Homo sapiens: one gene and its partner. The main gene of each other region encodes a partner of the protein of the gene in region 2 in a complex. Each region holds a gene or a part of one and is shown on either strand. Other genes may lie near its edges. A codon is read from its position in the direction of its gene.

The links.
Region 1: the proteins of MYH9 (region 2) and S100A4 are in contact, whole or in part, in an NMR structure (PDB 2LNK), measured with the Homo sapiens proteins. Residues at the interface, in NP_002464.1 of Homo sapiens: Thr1906, Ala1909, Met1910, Glu1913, Val1914, Ser1915, Leu1917, Lys1918, Lys1920, Leu1921, Arg1922, Asp1925, Leu1926, Pro1927, Phe1928, Val1929, Val1930, Pro1931, Arg1932, Met1934, Ala1935; in NP_002952.1 of Homo sapiens: Leu38 (codon at 2,016), Ser44 (codon at 1,998), Phe45 (codon at 1,995), Leu46 (codon at 1,992), Gly47 (codon at 1,989), Lys48 (codon at 1,256), Arg49 (codon at 1,253), Thr50 (codon at 1,250), Asp51 (codon at 1,247), Ala54 (codon at 1,238), Phe55 (codon at 1,235), Lys57 (codon at 1,229), Leu58 (codon at 1,226), Asn61 (codon at 1,217), Leu62 (codon at 1,214), Ser64 (codon at 1,208), Gln73 (codon at 1,181), Glu74 (codon at 1,178), Cys76 (codon at 1,172), Val77 (codon at 1,169), Phe78 (codon at 1,166), Ser80 (codon at 1,160), Cys81 (codon at 1,157), Ile82 (codon at 1,154), Met84 (codon at 1,148), Met85 (codon at 1,145), Cys86 (codon at 1,142), Glu88 (codon at 1,136), Phe89 (codon at 1,133), Phe90 (codon at 1,130).

What each region holds. Positions count from the first base shown.
Region 1 is NC_000001.11:153,542,668-153,550,392, forward strand, and holds S100A4 (protein S100-A4), read right to left. Parts: upstream 3,140-7,725; 5' UTR 3,086-3,139; exon of another isoform or gene 3,075-3,085; intron 2,852-3,074; exon of another isoform or gene 2,803-2,851; intron 2,143-2,802; 5' UTR 2,128-2,142; coding exon 1,987-2,127; intron 1,257-1,986; coding exon 1,092-1,256; 3' UTR 954-1,091; downstream 1-953. Other genes in the region: S100A5 (protein S100-A5), read right to left, coding at 573-594; S100A3 (protein S100-A3), read right to left, coding at 5,015-5,179, 5,678-5,818. UniProt on the Homo sapiens protein: Calcium-binding protein that plays a role in various cellular processes including motility, angiogenesis, cell differentiation, apoptosis, and autophagy.
Region 2 is NC_000022.11:36,293,696-36,301,697, forward strand, and holds part of MYH9 (myosin-9), read right to left. Parts: intron 7,971-8,002; coding exon 7,839-7,970; intron 7,363-7,838; coding exon 7,156-7,362; intron 6,570-7,155; coding exon 6,432-6,569; intron 5,348-6,431; coding exon 5,224-5,347; intron 3,320-5,223; coding exon 3,148-3,319; intron 2,023-3,147; coding exon 1,810-2,022; intron 1,382-1,809; coding exon 1,237-1,381; intron 604-1,236; coding exon 397-603; intron 169-396; coding exon 64-168; intron 1-63. UniProt on the Homo sapiens protein: Cellular myosin that appears to play a role in cytokinesis, cell shape, and specialized functions such as secretion and capping. Required for cortical actin clearance prior to oocyte exocytosis. Promotes cell motility in conjunction with S100A4.

The DNA of each region.
Region 1 (7,725 bases), on a different chromosome or scaffold from region 2:
GAGTCACCCAGACATGGCCTTGAAGTCTAACCTCAACCCACCACTGCACCCTGGAGCCACTGGCCTTGAACCTACCTAAGGGGAAGCAATATCATGCCTTATATTTTCTGGGGGGAAAATAATCTCAATTTCATTTGTCAGATCATATATGTGGAATTTTGTCTCCAAAACTATGGTCACCTTCCCACCATTTGCCTCACTCCCACTCCAGCCACTGACCCCCACTCATCTCTTCTGAGGTCCCCTGTCCTTCTCTGAAGGAGCTTGATTCCTGACTGATAACAGATCTCATCCAGGGACCTTTATGGCAGAGACGGTGGATTCGAGAATGCCTATATTCTCATGCTGCTGCAAACAGCGGGTCTCCCTCCACATTGCCCTCCCTGATCCTACCACGCACAGGAAAGGATTAATCCATCCCTGTGGTTTGAAGCCAATGATCTGGAAGTGGGTGGCAGGACAGGGCCTGGACTGTCAACGTCAGCACTGAGTGCCAGCCCTCCTCCCCATCCCACTCTCGCCTAAATACTTCCTCCCTGCAACTCAGCCTTATTCTTTTCCCTCCGACTTACTCCCAGGACACCCAAACTCCATTCCAGACCCCAACCAGGAACAGATATGACCTTCAATTCCAGCCTCGGTTCAAGATCCTGCCAGAGGCAAGGTTGGAGAGAGGTGGGAGGGGTAAGTGGGCTGGCTGAGATCCCACAGCTGGGACCTTCCAAACCTTGGCAGGGGGGTGGTGAGGGGTCCCCTTCTCGGCTTTGACCACACCGAGTGAACTCTATTGCCTGTGCACACACACTGTTAGTCACCCTGCATCCCTCCCCTAACTTCACTGGTCTGCTGTCCATAAAACTTCAGCTCAACTCCCAGCTCTCCCCACCACCACCCCACAACATATCCCTCAGTCCCCAACCCACGCCCCCAGAGTCTCTCAAACCATCAGCCTCAAAACTTCCAAGAATCTTTATTGAACTTGCTCAGCATCAAGCACGTGTCTGAAGGAGCCAGGGTGGAAAAAAAAAAGTGCCCACTGGCGACAGGGAGGGCCCCAGCTGGCAGACCCCCCAACCACATCAGAGGAGTTTTCATTTCTTCCTGGGCTGCTTATCTGGGAAGCCTTCAAAGAATTCGTTACACATCATGGCGATGCAGGACAGGAAGACACAGTACTCTTGGAAGTCCACCTCGTTGTCCCTGTTGCTGTCCAAGTTGCTCATCAGCTTCTGGAAAGCAGCTTCATCTGTCCTTTTCTGGAGGGAGAAGAGGCTACAGATAGAAAACAGAAGCCCAGTGGGTGGAGCCAGGACCAGACCCAGTTTCTACTCCCAGACCAGAGTTCAGGGAGGCTCCTTTGGGAGGTCCAGTTTGGAACTCCAACCCTCAAGGCTAAGCTAGGGTGGAGAAGGTGCTCCTTGGATAAGGAAGTCTGAGTACCTGGTGCAATGGAAAAATGACGGGACCACTACATTTTCACCCAAGGTTGTTCTAATAATCCCATGAGGTAGTAATAGTCATGAAAACAATATATAAACTGTGTTATGTTTGATACAAATATACATTGTTATTGTTTGAAGGGAACGTCTGCAGGCCTGTGATCATCTCCACATCTGTGTCTTCACATCTACAAGCCAAATAGAAACTCAAACAGTGTCCACTGTTGGAGTGATGGCAAGAGTCAGACAGTCCCGGTCCGGATGGCAGTTGTGTACACTGACCACCTTGGGAAGTTACTTAGCACTCTGAGCTTAGTCTTCCCTTCAGTTAAGTTGTGCAAAGCACCTGGCAGTGTCTGACCCATTCATTCTCAGCCCTCTTTCAGCATGGGGCCAGGCAGTGAGTGGTGGTGTTCAATGTGTTTCCACCCCAGGCAGCCACCCCACTGATAGATGCCCTCTGTAGCTAATGCTCTAGAGCAAGACTGCTGCCCTCCTCTGTGGGAAATGCCCCACGTGGGGACTCACTCAGGCACTACCCACTCACCCCCAAGAAGCTGGGCAGCTCCCGGGTCAGCAGCTCCTTTAGTTCTGACTTGTTGAGCTTGAACTTGTCACCCTCTTTGCCCGAGTACTTGTGGAAGGTGGACACCATCACATCCAGGGCCTTCTCCAGAGGGCACGCCATGACAGCAGTCAGGATCTGGGAGCAGGAGGCACAGAGACCGTCTTATTAATCCCACCCCTCAGAGATGTGTTCAGAATGCCAGGCTCCACTCCCATCCCTCCAGGAGCACTTGGCGAGACTCTGCTCCCTCCCTGGGGGAGCCCAGAGCAGTGGGCCCCCGCACCTGGCTGGGAGGGTGTGCACAGTGGGGAACACATGCTCTGGGCAGTGAACATTTGCAAGATCCGCTGCGCAAGCTCTGGAGATTCGGGCAGCAAACTCCCAGGGCCTCCCAGGCCTTGCCTCAACAACAGCATTTTTTCCACCCCTCACTCAGTCTATCCACTCCCACAGCTCAGCCACAAAGGCCCCGCCCTTGCCATTCTTTTCCCTCCCAGAACTGGGTGTGGCTGCTGGAGGCCTGCCCAGGGGCCTGCAGTGGAAAAAACCAGCACAGCCGCTTAGCTCTCAGCATGGGGAGGGGCAAAGTGAGGTGGCAGAGGCAAGGGTTGGAAGAGAAGCTGCAGAGGCCATGCACCTTCTCGAGCTGGGCTGCTGCGTGCAGGGCAGAGGCTCATGGGGCACACCACCAGACAAAGGCCCACAGTTGCCTTCTGCCTTTCCTTTGCTTCCTGCTCCCGAGTGCGCAACCCAGCAAACATGAGCCAGTGCAGATACCCACAGGCACATACATACCAACACGTACTATAGCAACAGCGTGTGCAAGCCCACATCTCAGAAGCACCTGGAGAGCTCAAATTCAGTCACTTGCTCACTTTTCTGTTTGTTTTTTCCTCCGTCTTACGTGCATGTGTGTGTGTGCCATGCACACCCACGCACACAATCCACCCAGAGTTCCACATCAGAATCTCACATCTGGATCTCTTTAGCACATCTGGCCCCCACCAGCCTCCCCTTCTCCTTCCCCAGCCCTGGCCTCTGACACCCCTTGCATGCCAGTCAGGCCAACACAACTCACCAAACCAAGAAAGAAGAAGCGCTGAGGAGAGAGGGTTGTAGAGAGGGGAAGAATGGGGACGGCCCAGAGGTCTGACCTATTTATACCCCAGCCAGGCCCTGCCCATAGCAGGGGACAGGGGAGAGCGGATACTGCCTTCCTGCTGTGGGCTGATGCGGTAAGTGCCACAGCACCCTCCACCAGCCCAGCCGTGGAACCAAGCCTCCTGTTCCCAGGTGGGCACCCGTGGGTAACGGGTAAGCCCTAGCGGTTACTAGCAGGGGACTGGATGAGATGGGCACCACCCAGTGTACATAGCTCAGCCTGAGTTTTAGAGAGGTGGAGGAAGGGGCAGCCTGTGCCTGGAGCATGGGGGACAGGGAGTAGTCCCATGGGGACCTAGGAAAGGAGATGCAGGGGGTGGTGGGTGACAGGTGGGAGATTGCCCTGGAAATGTGGTGACACAAAAGCTAGGGGGGAGATGGGAGGATCGCCTGAGGCCAGGAGTTCAAGACCAGCCTAGGCAACATAGAGAGACTTCTGTCTCTATAAAAAGGAAAAACAATTTTTTTTTTTAATTAGCTGGGCAGCATGGCTGTAGCCTGTAGTCCCAGCTAGTCAGGAAGCTGAGACAGGAGGATCATTTGAGCCCAGGAGTTCGAGACTGCAGTTGGCTATGCTCAAGCCACTGCTCTCCAGCCTGAGCAACACAGAGGACCTTGTCTCTTAAAAAAATAAAGATTCAGAAACAAAAACTGGGGTGGGGATCCCCATGCCCGGTACTGTCTGCCATGCCAAGTAAGGCTCAGGGTCGGGGCGGGGGGATCTGGAGGGGAACAGGCTCACACCCAAAGGAGGCTCTGGGACCACCTCAGGAACGTCAGTGGGAAAGGTCCTGGGTGAGGTAGTGATGGAGTGGAGTGGCAGTGAGGCGTGGGGGCTCACGGATAGATCTCAGGTTCGGAGAGGGTATCAGGAGGGGCCATTTAAAGTTGGGATGAGTGTCAGGAATGAAGAATCCAGGTTGGGGTGGAGAGTTAGAGGTGAAATGGCATGAAATAGGGGAGTTATAATTCGGGTCAACCTCTCAGGGTGGGCTACAAACCCAGTGAGGGTTAGAAGTAGGGGGTTAAGGCCCTCAGGGGGCTGCGGCTTCAGGGATAGGGGCTAGCTCAAGTTATTCCCTTACCCCTCCATACAGAGCACCCCTTCCTGGCTGGGAGAAACACCTCAGACACCCTAATCCCATTAGTGCTGCTCTCTGGGCTCCCACAGCCCGAGGCAGGGAACAAACACCCCCACTGCACCCACGGCCCCACCCTCCTCCAACCATGAGCACTGAGTCCCAGGGGAAACTCAGGCAGTCCTCTCTCAAAGATCCCAAAGAAAGAGAGAGAGGAAGGGAGGACAGGGGTCCTTGTTTTGTCCCCACGCCCTCCTGCTGGACCCTGGAGGCCACTGCATTTCTGCAGGGTCTGCAACTTCCCTCAGGGAGCACCCTGCCCCTGCCCTCAGCTGCCTTCCCGCAGTGGAAAAGGCCAGAGAGGAGCAAAGAGCTCAGGAGACGCGTCCTCAGAGAAGAACCAAACAAAACCAAGCTGATGCCAGTTTTTTATTAGGAGTTAAATAGGCCCTTTCCCATCGTGGTCTCATTGGTGCACGCTCTGCTGAGCCTCGAGGGCCTCAGAGCAGATCCCGCCTCCTCCCATCCACAAGGGAGGCCACAGGGGTGCGGCAGGCAGGCTGGGCCCCAGAGTGGCTCTACCCCTCATTCGCTGGGCATCCTGAGGAAGGAGCCCTCACATCTCTGGGCCTCCTAGGTAAAATGGGTTAACTGATCGCAGAAGACCTGGGCAAGTCCAGATTGAAAGGGGTACAGGAGAGAGGGTAGGAGGGGGTGTGGGAGACATGCCCAGCCCCCGACAGCCAGCGCACCCCCTGGAGCAGAGGCTACTGGGAGCAGGGGGGCTCTGAGGGGCAGTCCTTGAAGTACTCGTGGCAGTAGAGACAGAGGCAGGCAAGTGAGCGCACATACTCCACAAAGTCCACCTCGCAGTCCTTGTTGGTGTCCAGAACACTCATGAATTTGTTGTAGTCACATTCCCGAAACTCAGTCTGTGCAAGGGAAGGGTTGGGAGAGGTAAGGGAGTAGGATGAGGAGGGCAGAACAGCCTCACACGCCACCTCCCTCCTTCCTCTCCCAAGTGGACCCACCCCACCCCAAACTACACCCTTCTGAGGGCCGACTTCAACCTCCCTGCTCTGATAATGCACTCGTTGCAATCCCCTCCCAAATCTGTCCTCTCAGATTATTAATCGAGCACCTACTATTTGCTACTGAGTGCCTACCAAGTGTTAGGCATTCTTCATGGTGCTCTCACTCAGTCCTCTCAACAGCTCTGCAAGGCAGCAGGGATGATTGTCATCCCATTTTACAGATGAGGAAGCTGAGGTTTCTGCTGTGTCAGTTCTCCCCCTCCCACTCCCTCCTCACAATCCAGCCCCCTCCCTTGCTGTCCTGTGCTCATGCTTGTTGTCCCCAGGTCTCTCTTTGCAGAGTCTAGGCAGTGCCTCCCCCCGGAGGAGGAGGGGACGGACACTCTGACTGCTCACCGGGGTCCAGGTGGCCAGCTCCTTCTGCAGCAGCTCCTTGAGCTCCGCCTGGCAGAGCTTGTATTTGTCCCCACAGCGCCCTGCGTATTCCTGGAAGGTGCACACGATGGCAGCTACCGCCTGCTCCAGAGGCCTGGCCATCCTCACTGTCACAGAACAAGGGTGTGGCTCACAGCAGAGTTCCAGGCCAGCCCCCCAGCTCACCTCTGCCCTCTGTGTTTCTCAGAGACTGTTCCCAGACCCATCTTAACCTCCATCAGGCTTCAGGCCCCGCAGTCTCCCCCTCCTCTGAGTAGCCCTCCCAGACCACACCAGCCCCTCCTAATTTATCCCCCTGCTGTCCTGTTGTTATTTCCCCATGTAGAGGTCTCATTGCCCCAACATCGCTGTAAACTCCTCAGAGAGACAGCATCCTACCCCACCACCCACACACCCCACCGTGGGGCTCCTTAAGCACTCTCAGATTATCTGCCACCTCTTCTTATCCCCAACACCCAGGGATGGCTCGGTCCCAGTCTGCCCCAGCCCATGAGATGCCCTAGAAGCCTCCCTCCCTGCAGGAACTTGCACAAGGAGAGCCTGGCCCTGTGCTTCTCTGCCCTCAGCCCTTGGAGAAGCTAGGCCTTAGCAGGGAGGGGCAGGTCTGAGAGGCGCCCCCACAGCCTCACCACCACTGCCCTCACCCTGCCTCCTGCCCTGAACTCGAGGAAGCTGCACCCAGAAGAAAAACTTGTGGGATCCTCTCTGCCTGTCGCCAGCTGTGCAACCTTGGTGAGCCATTTGTCTCTCTGGGTCTCAGGGGCGGGGCCTGATCTGTAAGTTGGGGTTCATCTCACCTCGCTGGCCCAGTCAGGAACCTGAACCAGATGGTCTCTTGAGAGTTGACCAGTTCGGGTGTTTACCAATCTGAGACTGGCCTCCCCTGAGGTTACCCTCCCGACCCCTGGGGGTTTTGAGCAGGGAGGTTCTGTATAGGGATACTCTGTTCTATTGGAGGGGAAGCCCTTCCTGGAATTGCTCACCTCCCCCCACTTCCACTGTCCCCTTCCACCGCCCTTCTGGGATGATGCCTCCAGCCTGGGAAAACCCGAAGGCAGCCAGGAAGGCAAGAGTTTTTTCCATGCTAGCCCAGTGACTCACTCCTGATTCCCCCACGGGACAAGAGTCCTGCAGCACAGGGCGGCCAGGGCCAAGACTCTCCCTGAAGATTTGCCCACTGCTGGGCCCCCTGCTGGGAGCAAATGGCTGGCATGGTTGTGGCTGGCAGGAAAGTAGGGGAAGGGGAGTGGGGAGTGCCAAGCACTGCCAGGATTTAATTCATTGTAAACACCCCAGGATTAGAGCAAGGTGTCCAGGTTCCCAGGAGAGGAAAGGGCCATGATCCTCAGAAATGAGGAGACTCAGAGGTGAAGCAAGGAGGCAAGGAGCAGGTGAGGGGCCTGATCAAGGGGAAGACCAGAGCCTTGAGCCCAGTGCTCCCACCCCAAGGCAGACCTTAGCTCTACACACCTCCCTGCCCAAACTTCCCCAACAGCCCCTCACTGTGTAAGGAAACCTCTGCGTCCACTATATCTGACTTCCCTCCCCGTGTCAGGCCCGCCTGTGGTCATCTCTCTGCTTCCAATGCCAGACCCTGGGTCAGGAGTCAGGCTGGCTACTGGGGGTCCCCAAACTGCCCTGACACTCAACCCAGGGCAGGACCCAAGCAGCTGGCACTCACCACTGGTGCTGGCGTTTCAGCTGTAGGAGCTTAGAGACAGGGCGTCACTATTTGTAGCCTCCCAAGAAAGGAAGGAAGCAATTATGGGGGACACAAGTAGGTCAACACTGAGGATGCCCTCAGGGATCCCTCAGCAGACCCATTACAGGCCCCACCTGCCCACCTATCCACGCACACATCAAAGGCCAGTCTGGGCTCAGACACCACTCCCCTTTCATTCCCCATCTGCCCTCCCCCAGAGTTGGGAACAGGGGACAGTCTCCTGCCAAGTCCTTCCAGCTCAGTTGGAGGAGACAGTCTGGCTTATCCATCACATCACAGCCCCATC
Region 2 (8,002 bases):
TTGCGTGGACACAGAGGCCTTTCTGGAGGGGTCCACCTTCTGGGAACCTGGCGCCACCCCTACCTGAGTGTCCTGCAGCTGGGACTCCAGCGCGGAGAAGTCCTTGGTGAGCTTGCTGGACTTGCTGTCGGACTGGCTGAGAAGCCCGGTCACGTTGTCCAGCTCCACCTGCACCGGGCGGGGAGACACAAAGGACCATGGACCCACCCCCACTGCTCCTGCCCCACCTCATCTCCTTTAGGTAAAGCTGGACCTGAGTCACAAGCTGAACCATGAGGGTCTGAGGAGCCAGTTTGAGAAGAGAGAGAGACAGAGAGCACACATGCACCTGGGGACCTGGGCCACAACTGCTGCTAGGGCCCACTGCCCGCGCCAGGGTCCTGGCGGAGGCCTCACCTGCAGCTTGGTGACCTTGTCGGCCAGCTCTGTGCGCACGCGCTCTCCCTCGTTGAACTTGACCTGCAGCTCCTGCAGCTGCGCCTCCACTTTCTTGCGCTTGTGCTCCGAGTCCCCTTTGCCCTGCAGCAGCACCTTCACCTCGTTGGCCAGCTCCCCCCGCTCGTTCTCCAGAGTCTGCTTTGCCTTCTCGAGGTTTGCTTTCACCTAGCAGGGAAGAAAGCAAAGACGTGAGTGGGGGCCTCCTGACACAAGGCTGGCTGGTCTATCATCACTGGACCCTAGATCCAGACATCGCTGCTTCTGCAGCCCTGACGACGGTGTGCCTGCGTCCTGGACTCAGACGGCTCGGGCCTCATCTGTCCTGTCCTCTTCTCTCTTAGCTGGTGGGTGACACTTGGTTCCTGTCTTCACTGCTTAGGACATCTCACAGCTTCCCCATCTCTAAAATAATACCTGCCCAGCCTTCTGCCCTGGGTAGAGGCCAGGTTCTAGGGCATGGCATTGGTGTTGCAGATGTTAGCAATATTTGTAACGCAATAAGGGGAACTATAATTGTTTGCAGTTAGACTTCCAATAAAGCCTGTCTGAAGTCTGATGTTCAAAGTAACGATGTAATGTTTTCACCCTCAAATAATCACGAGACAGACATACCATAATCCTCCCTTATGAACAGGGAAACTGAGGCACGAGTCACAAAGCCCCTTAGAAGGGGAGCCTGGCCTCAGAACCAGGCAGTTGGGTAGAACCCTGCAACTGCTCTGCAGGACTGGTTTGGATTCTGTGGGCCCAGCACGGGGAACCCTGCCCTCCCCCTGCGGTCTCAGGGAGGCTCCGCACCCGCTTCGTCTGCTCCAGCTGCTCCGCCAGCTCCTCCACGGCCTGTGAGTGCTTCTGCCTCATCTCCTGGATCTGGGCCTCGTGGGTCTTGGCCTCCTCCTCCAGGGTCTTCTTCAGGATGTTCACCTCCTGCTCACGTTTTGACCTGGACAGAGAAATCCCCTCAGAGTGGAGGCCGGGGATGCTGGAGCGAGGCTGTCCCTGGGGCTCTTCCCTGACCAAAGAGAGGCCTGGCCAGGGCACAGGCACTCCAGGCAGCTTTTCTACCCACCGGCCCCTCCTAGCCATCTATCCCATAGCCCAGGCTCAAATACGCCCTGTGAGAGCTTCTGTAGCCTTTCAGCTTTAAAGCCCAGCCTTGCCTCACCCCCAACTTTGAGCCAGGTCCTTCAACAGACTTTCTACTCTGTAGAGAGAAACCGCTGAGGAACCAGCAGCTTCCATGCCTGCTGGTGCCTAAGAGGGCCACGGTGTGTGTGTGTGTGTGTGTGCAGAGGCCCGGGGTCCATGTCTCCAAGCCAAGGCCCCCCTGGCTGCCCTCCCCATCCCGAGGGACTTGGTCCCAGGGCACACCTGAGCTCCTGCTGGGCAGCTGTGGAATCCAGCGTGTCCTCCAACTCTGTTTTCAGAGCCTCTAGCTCTTCCCCAAGGTCCCGTTTCTGCTTCTCAGCTTTATTCCTGGAAGCACGCTCAGACTCCAGGTCTTCCTGGAGTTCAGAGATCTGAGATTCCAGCTCCCGGATCTTCTTGAGGGCCATGTTCTTCTGGGCAGCTTCCTCTTCCACTCTGCCAAAGCGACCAGCAACATCAGTATAAGGAGAGTTTCACCTCCAAGGAGCAGAGTTTGCAGGACAGGCCTGAGAGAGCTGCAGCAGCCAAAGCTGCCTCCTGTGGTCACAATCATGGCACTTAGGATGGCTCTCAGCAGAAACAACATCTGAGACAACCAGATTGAAGGGCAACACCCCTCTGAGAAGCAGAAAACCTCATAGAGGAATCGTTTCAATTTCCAAAGTAAGATTCACTGCTTCAAATATTTTTAAAAGTCAAATGATGTGTTAAATGGGAAGAAAAGGAAATAAAACGCTACACCACAGGACAACTGCAACTCAGTAAAAATACGAATGTGCTACGGACTTTAGATGGTTATGACAGGTCAACGTAGGTTCACCAATTAGAACAGACACAGCACTGTGGTAGGGGATGTTGACTGCAGGGGAGGCGGTGCGTGAGTGGGGCAGTGGATAGATGGAGAATCTTCTGCTGACTCTTCTGTGAATCTAAAACTACTCTAAAAAATAAAGTCTCTTTCTTTTTTTTTTAAACAGAGTCTCGCTCTGTCACCTAGGCTGGAGTGCAATGGCACGATCTTGGCTGACTGCAACCTCTGCCTCCTGGGTTCAAGTGATTCTCCTGCCTCAGCCTCCTGAGTAGGTGAGATTACAGTCGTGTGCCACCACACTGGCGAATTTTTTATATTTTTGGTAGGGATGGGGGTTTCACCATGTTGGCCAGGCTGGTCTCGAACTCCTGACCTCAAGTGATCCACCCGGCTTGGCCTCCCAAAGTGCTGGGATCACAGACGTGAGCCAACGTGCCTGGTCAAGTCTTTTTTTTTTTTTTTTTTTTTTTTAAGTGTGCCTATAGCAAGAAATTAGGAAAGGACTATTGTAGGTGGGTGATAGAGCTGTGGATGACTTTTTTTCAAATTATAAACAAACAAAAGACAAATGAGGCCCCTCACCATGCCCTGAGTGCACAAGAACTGTTTTGCTATGAAATAAATGGCTCTTTTAAGACAACAGTGGAAAGAATGCTCACAGCTCACTAGTGCCGAGAACTAGGGCCAGCAGCAAGCAGGAAGGGCTGGCCCAGGCCACCTGGCCTCAGGCGGGCAGGCGGGGTCCTCACCTGGCCAGGGCGGCCTGGAGCTCCTCCTCTTTCTTGGCCAGCTGCATCTTGAGCTCCGCGATCTGGGCCTGGAGCTCGGCGATCTGGTCGCTGAGGTCTGTGGAGTCTCCCTCCAGCTTCCGGCGGGTCTTCTCCAGCTCCTGTCGCTGCTTCTCCTCCCTGCGGAGGCGCTCTGCAATGCAGGGGGAGCCCACATAGCCCTCAGTGCCATGGGTTCTGTCTCCGTGTCAATTACTTATACAAAATACTGAGCACTCGTTATGAAACGTGTGTCAGGCTTAAAGCATCACAAACACACAGACACTCGCACCCAACTCCTGGATGCAGGAAGAGGACATCACTGCAAACTGCTAGCCCCTGGCATGTCTCTCTCCAACTCACCCCTTGTCCTTCCCTGCCAGGAATTAAGTACTCTCCTAAAGCTGGTGTTTGTAATTCCCTTGGTTCCCTTGAAGGCTGTACCATGTCTGTATCTCTAAAAAACATGTTCAATTGTGTGTGAATCTGAACTTATATAATGGAACTGCCTTGTGTGAATTCCACAGTTGGAATCGCACGGTCAGGGCTCTATGTCTAGCTTTATAACTCTGTGATGTCACTTGGGAAAGCTACTTTCTATACCTCATCTGAATAATAAGCAAAAGGAGACAGCCTACTTCATTAGGATGCTGTGAGGCGCCAATGAGTTACTATCTTAAAAAGCACCTAGAACAGTGCCTGCCTCGTGATGGTTATTCCCTGCCGTGCCTTTGCCACCCCATCACGTGATCTTGAGATGTAGCCCGTGAAGTTTCGCTGGAATAGATGTGTAAGGACATTTGTCTAGGATTCCATTATGAGAATACACCACAACTTACTTATGTACCCGTCCTGCAGCTGGCGGGCATGCGGCTGTGTTCATCGCACGCTCTGATCAACGCTGCTGCAAGCATCCTGCTCACTCTCAGTGCACACGGCTGAGTGACGGATGGAACGGCCAGGTCACCGGCATGCTAAGTTTCAACCTCACTAGGACTGCCGGATCGTTCTCTAACGCCGTCTACCAGTTTGCAGTCCCAGCAGCAGCATATGTGTGCTCTGACAGCTCCGTGTCTATGTTAGCCCTTATTAGTGTCAACCTTTCATGTCTGTCCATCTGGTGGGTGCAAGGCAACCCCTAGACCTCCTAGATGACCAAGTCTTCCGGGCTCCTCCCAGGTGAGGGAGGGTGTCTGTGAGGGAAGAGATCTCTCTGTGTCCGGACCTCTCTTCTGCTGGACCTGACTCACCTCATCCCCTGCAGATGTGAGGGGGCCGGACAAGACTGTGAAACTAAGCTGGGGATAATCCTCCCGGTGGTCAGGTTTTGGTCTCCCTCCCCTGGGTATGAGCTCAGAGTTCCCAGAGTAGTCGGGGTTCCCCTGTTCCCCCAGCTGTCCACTCCTCTCAAGGGGCAGGGCTGGGGGTCCTCAGACAGCCACGGACCTGTGCTTCTACCCCAGCACCCCCTCCCTGCCACAGATCCCGAGGGCACACAGAGACAAGGCAGGATTTGTCACCCTGCCCCAAGTCAAGCAATGAACTTCCGCAGTATTCGTCTAGGACTTTACGGTACATATGTGTTCACATGTATTTAATGAAATTCTCACAGACACCCTAGCACTGTGTCCCCTTTTTAGGTAAAACTAAAGCTCATGGAGCTTAAGTCATAGCTGCAAGATGAGCCAGCTAGTCAGTGACAGAGCTAGTGAGTCCTGTGGGTCAAACCCGGAGCCTCCTAGGAAGTCTCAGAAGCTTCCAAAACCCACGGCACACAACAGAGCAATGCCAAAGCTCTCTAAACACGCTTCATGCAGTGGGGGCATCTAGCCACAGAGCAACAGGGGCCTGGAGGCTCAGGTTCCCGCAGGCACCAGACACGGCTCCCCTCGACCTGGTGACCTCAGGTCTAAAGGGCAGCAGCCAGTGCTGTAGTGTGACCCAGGCTCACCCGTGAGCTGAGAAGGCCTCGGTGTTCCGGTCAGACAGGCCGGCCCCTGACCGCCAGCCCTTGCCCGCCAGCCCCTGCCCATCACCTCCTGCTCGTCACCCCCTCACCTTCCAAGTCAGTGATCATTGCCTCATGCTTGTTCTTGAGCTTGGCGAGGCTCTTAGATTTCTCCTCCTCTTCTGTGAGGTTGGTGGTGAACTCAGCTATTCTGTCTTCCAGCAGTTTCTTTTCCTGGGGAGAGGGGAGTAGGCTGGCATTTAGTGTTGGTTGAGCACAGAACACTTGCTAGCCTCAAAGCATGACTCGCCCGGAAATCTGGGGCTGAATGGAGAGGGCTTTAGACGCTTGATCAAGTTCATTAGGATTTTCCTAGATCAAAGGATAATTTTGAAAGGTCACGAGCTCCCCTGAAACAGCGAGGTACGCTTCCTTAGAACCAAAAAATGTGGGTGCCCAAGCCCTTCCCCTTCCCCTGTGGGCTTGGGTGAGAAAGGATTCCAGGTGACAGCTAGTGTCAGCAGGGACAGATGGCTCCACTCCTTCAAGAGGCTGCCACACGGCGCTCACCTGCGCCACCAGGCCACCTTCTCCGTGCCCCTCTCTCACCTGCCAGGTGGGCCACGGCCCCTCCCCCTCTTCAGCCCCGCGGTGCCCCGGGCTGCTCTCCTTGCTTTCTGTTCTGTGTGGCCCCTGCAACACCCCTGCCCAGCGGCCACAGCTCGGCACAAGCACCTGAGTCCCCTCATCCCAGTCCCGGGTGGGCGTCCTGCCACCTCAGCCTCCCCAGCCTTTGGGGCTCCCATGTTCTGAGGAGGCCCGAAAGGTGGGGAGGCTGCCTTCTCCTGCCTTCTCCTCTAACTGGTTCCCCGGCTGCTATCTGCTCCCTGGGCAGACACCGACAGGGACCCAACTCATTCTCAAGAGGAATAGCTGCCGCCCAGGGACAGTGGAGGAAGAGTACCCCGTATCTCAACACAGAGCCACCAAGGTGTCCCCAACCCCACAGTGACCAACACTTGCAATGCTGCACAGATGGCCACCTTTACACAGGCTCGGGTCTCACGGCTGGCAAAGAAGAGCTTTCCAGAGGGGAAAGGACAAACCCTTCCCCAGGGCCCCTTTGCTTATGAGGAAATCCCTCAACTAAGGCCCATGGGACCTCCAGGGAGCACTTGCAGTTAAGCAGAAGCCCTCATGCTGCAGGCAGAAGAGACAGGAAGCAGCAGCAGCGGGGAGCCAGGCCCTGCAAGGGTGACCACACTCTCCCATCCACGGCGCCCCTGGAGCAGCGGCAGGCGACAGCCACGGGCCTCACCTTGGCCAGCTTGCAGTTCTGGTCCTCCAGGATGATCTGCTCCTCCTCCAGCTTTTTCAGCTTCGCCTCGGTGGTCACCTTCTCCAGCTGCAGCTTCTGCCGGGCGCTCTCCTCCTCCTCCAGCTGCTCCTCAAGCTCCTGCCGGGGGCCAGAGACACGGTAAGGACAGCAGGCCCAGAGGCATGGCCAAGGTGAAGGCAGCAAGGTCCGAAGGCCAGATCCAAACGCCAAGGAGAAAATAGCAAGGTCTGTGAGCCCAGGGCCATGGCTGAGGTGGGGACGGCAAGGTCCGCCAGCCCAGGGCCACAGCCGAGGCAGGGCCCAAGCCCCATTTGTAGGATTCCAGATTTCAAACTGGGACACAGGGCCAGAACATCGGTGCAATGTTCTGAAGGGTTTCCTGCAGCAAGCTCCCACCCATGAAACAGGCAGGACGCAGAGGTGCTGGCCCTGTGCCCCTTCGGCTAGCCAGGGCCAGGGCTAATGGCAGGGAAATCAAATTGGCCTTGATGCTGGCCCAGGCAGTGCTCATGGAGATCTCAGATGCACATGTCACAAACTACCAGCCCAAAGGGAACACCTCTCACTGAGAGCCCCAAGCAGATTGCGTGAGGAGCAGCCTCCTTGGACCCTAATTCCATGTTCTCCCAGCTCCTGGTTCCTGCTCCTCCGCCCCGCCCTGCCCCTCCGGCGCCACCCCTCCCCGGGTGCAGCGGGCAGGAACCTGGATGTTCTGCTGCATCTTCTTCTTCTCCGCCTGCAGGTGCTGGCAGCGCTCCTCCTCCTCCTCCACCCTGGCCTCTAGGTCATGGCAGATCTCTTCTAATTCCTGCTTCTTGGCGGTCAGGCGGGCCCGGAGCTCCTCAGCCTCGGCACACAGCTCGGTTTCTGCCTGGAGCTGCTCCTGCAGCTGCAATTTCTCTGCCATGAGCTGCAAACAACAAGTGGAAAACACAAGCTCCTCGCAACACCCTCAAGCCACTCCATCCTCAAGGACGGACGCCATGGCTCGGGATCCCAGAGGGAAAGGAACATGCAGACAAAAGTAGCTTTCATCTGGAGAGCTCTGAAGCTTCCAGGTACCTTCCAGACATCGTGTCCTTGATTTTTCACTACCCCATGAGCTCCAGAGCAAGGTCCCAGGAAATGGGCTCAAGTCATGTGGTAGAGCTGAGGTTTGAACCCAACACTTGTGAACGTTCCACTCTATTAAGTGGCCTCCCTACATCACTTAACACCCAATGGGGTCTGCAGAGAGACTGGTCACTGTTTACAGTAATAGGAAACTCAGTTGTAGAAAACTCCTATAGTAATAGAAACTTCCAGCATGCCGTGCCTACCGATGGCCAGCAGGTGGCAGCACCAGGCAGGTCGTGCGACCTGGACTGAGCCTGCACTGACACCCACCTGAGACTGCAGCGTCTCCATCTCCGTGAGCCTGTTCTCCGCAGCCAGCTGCTTCTCTCTGACCTTCACCAGCTCCTCCTCCTTGGCCATCATCTCCTCCTCCTGCCGGCTCACCTGCAGCAGCGGCTTGACCTGGGAGAGGAGATAGAGGTAGAGACATGCTC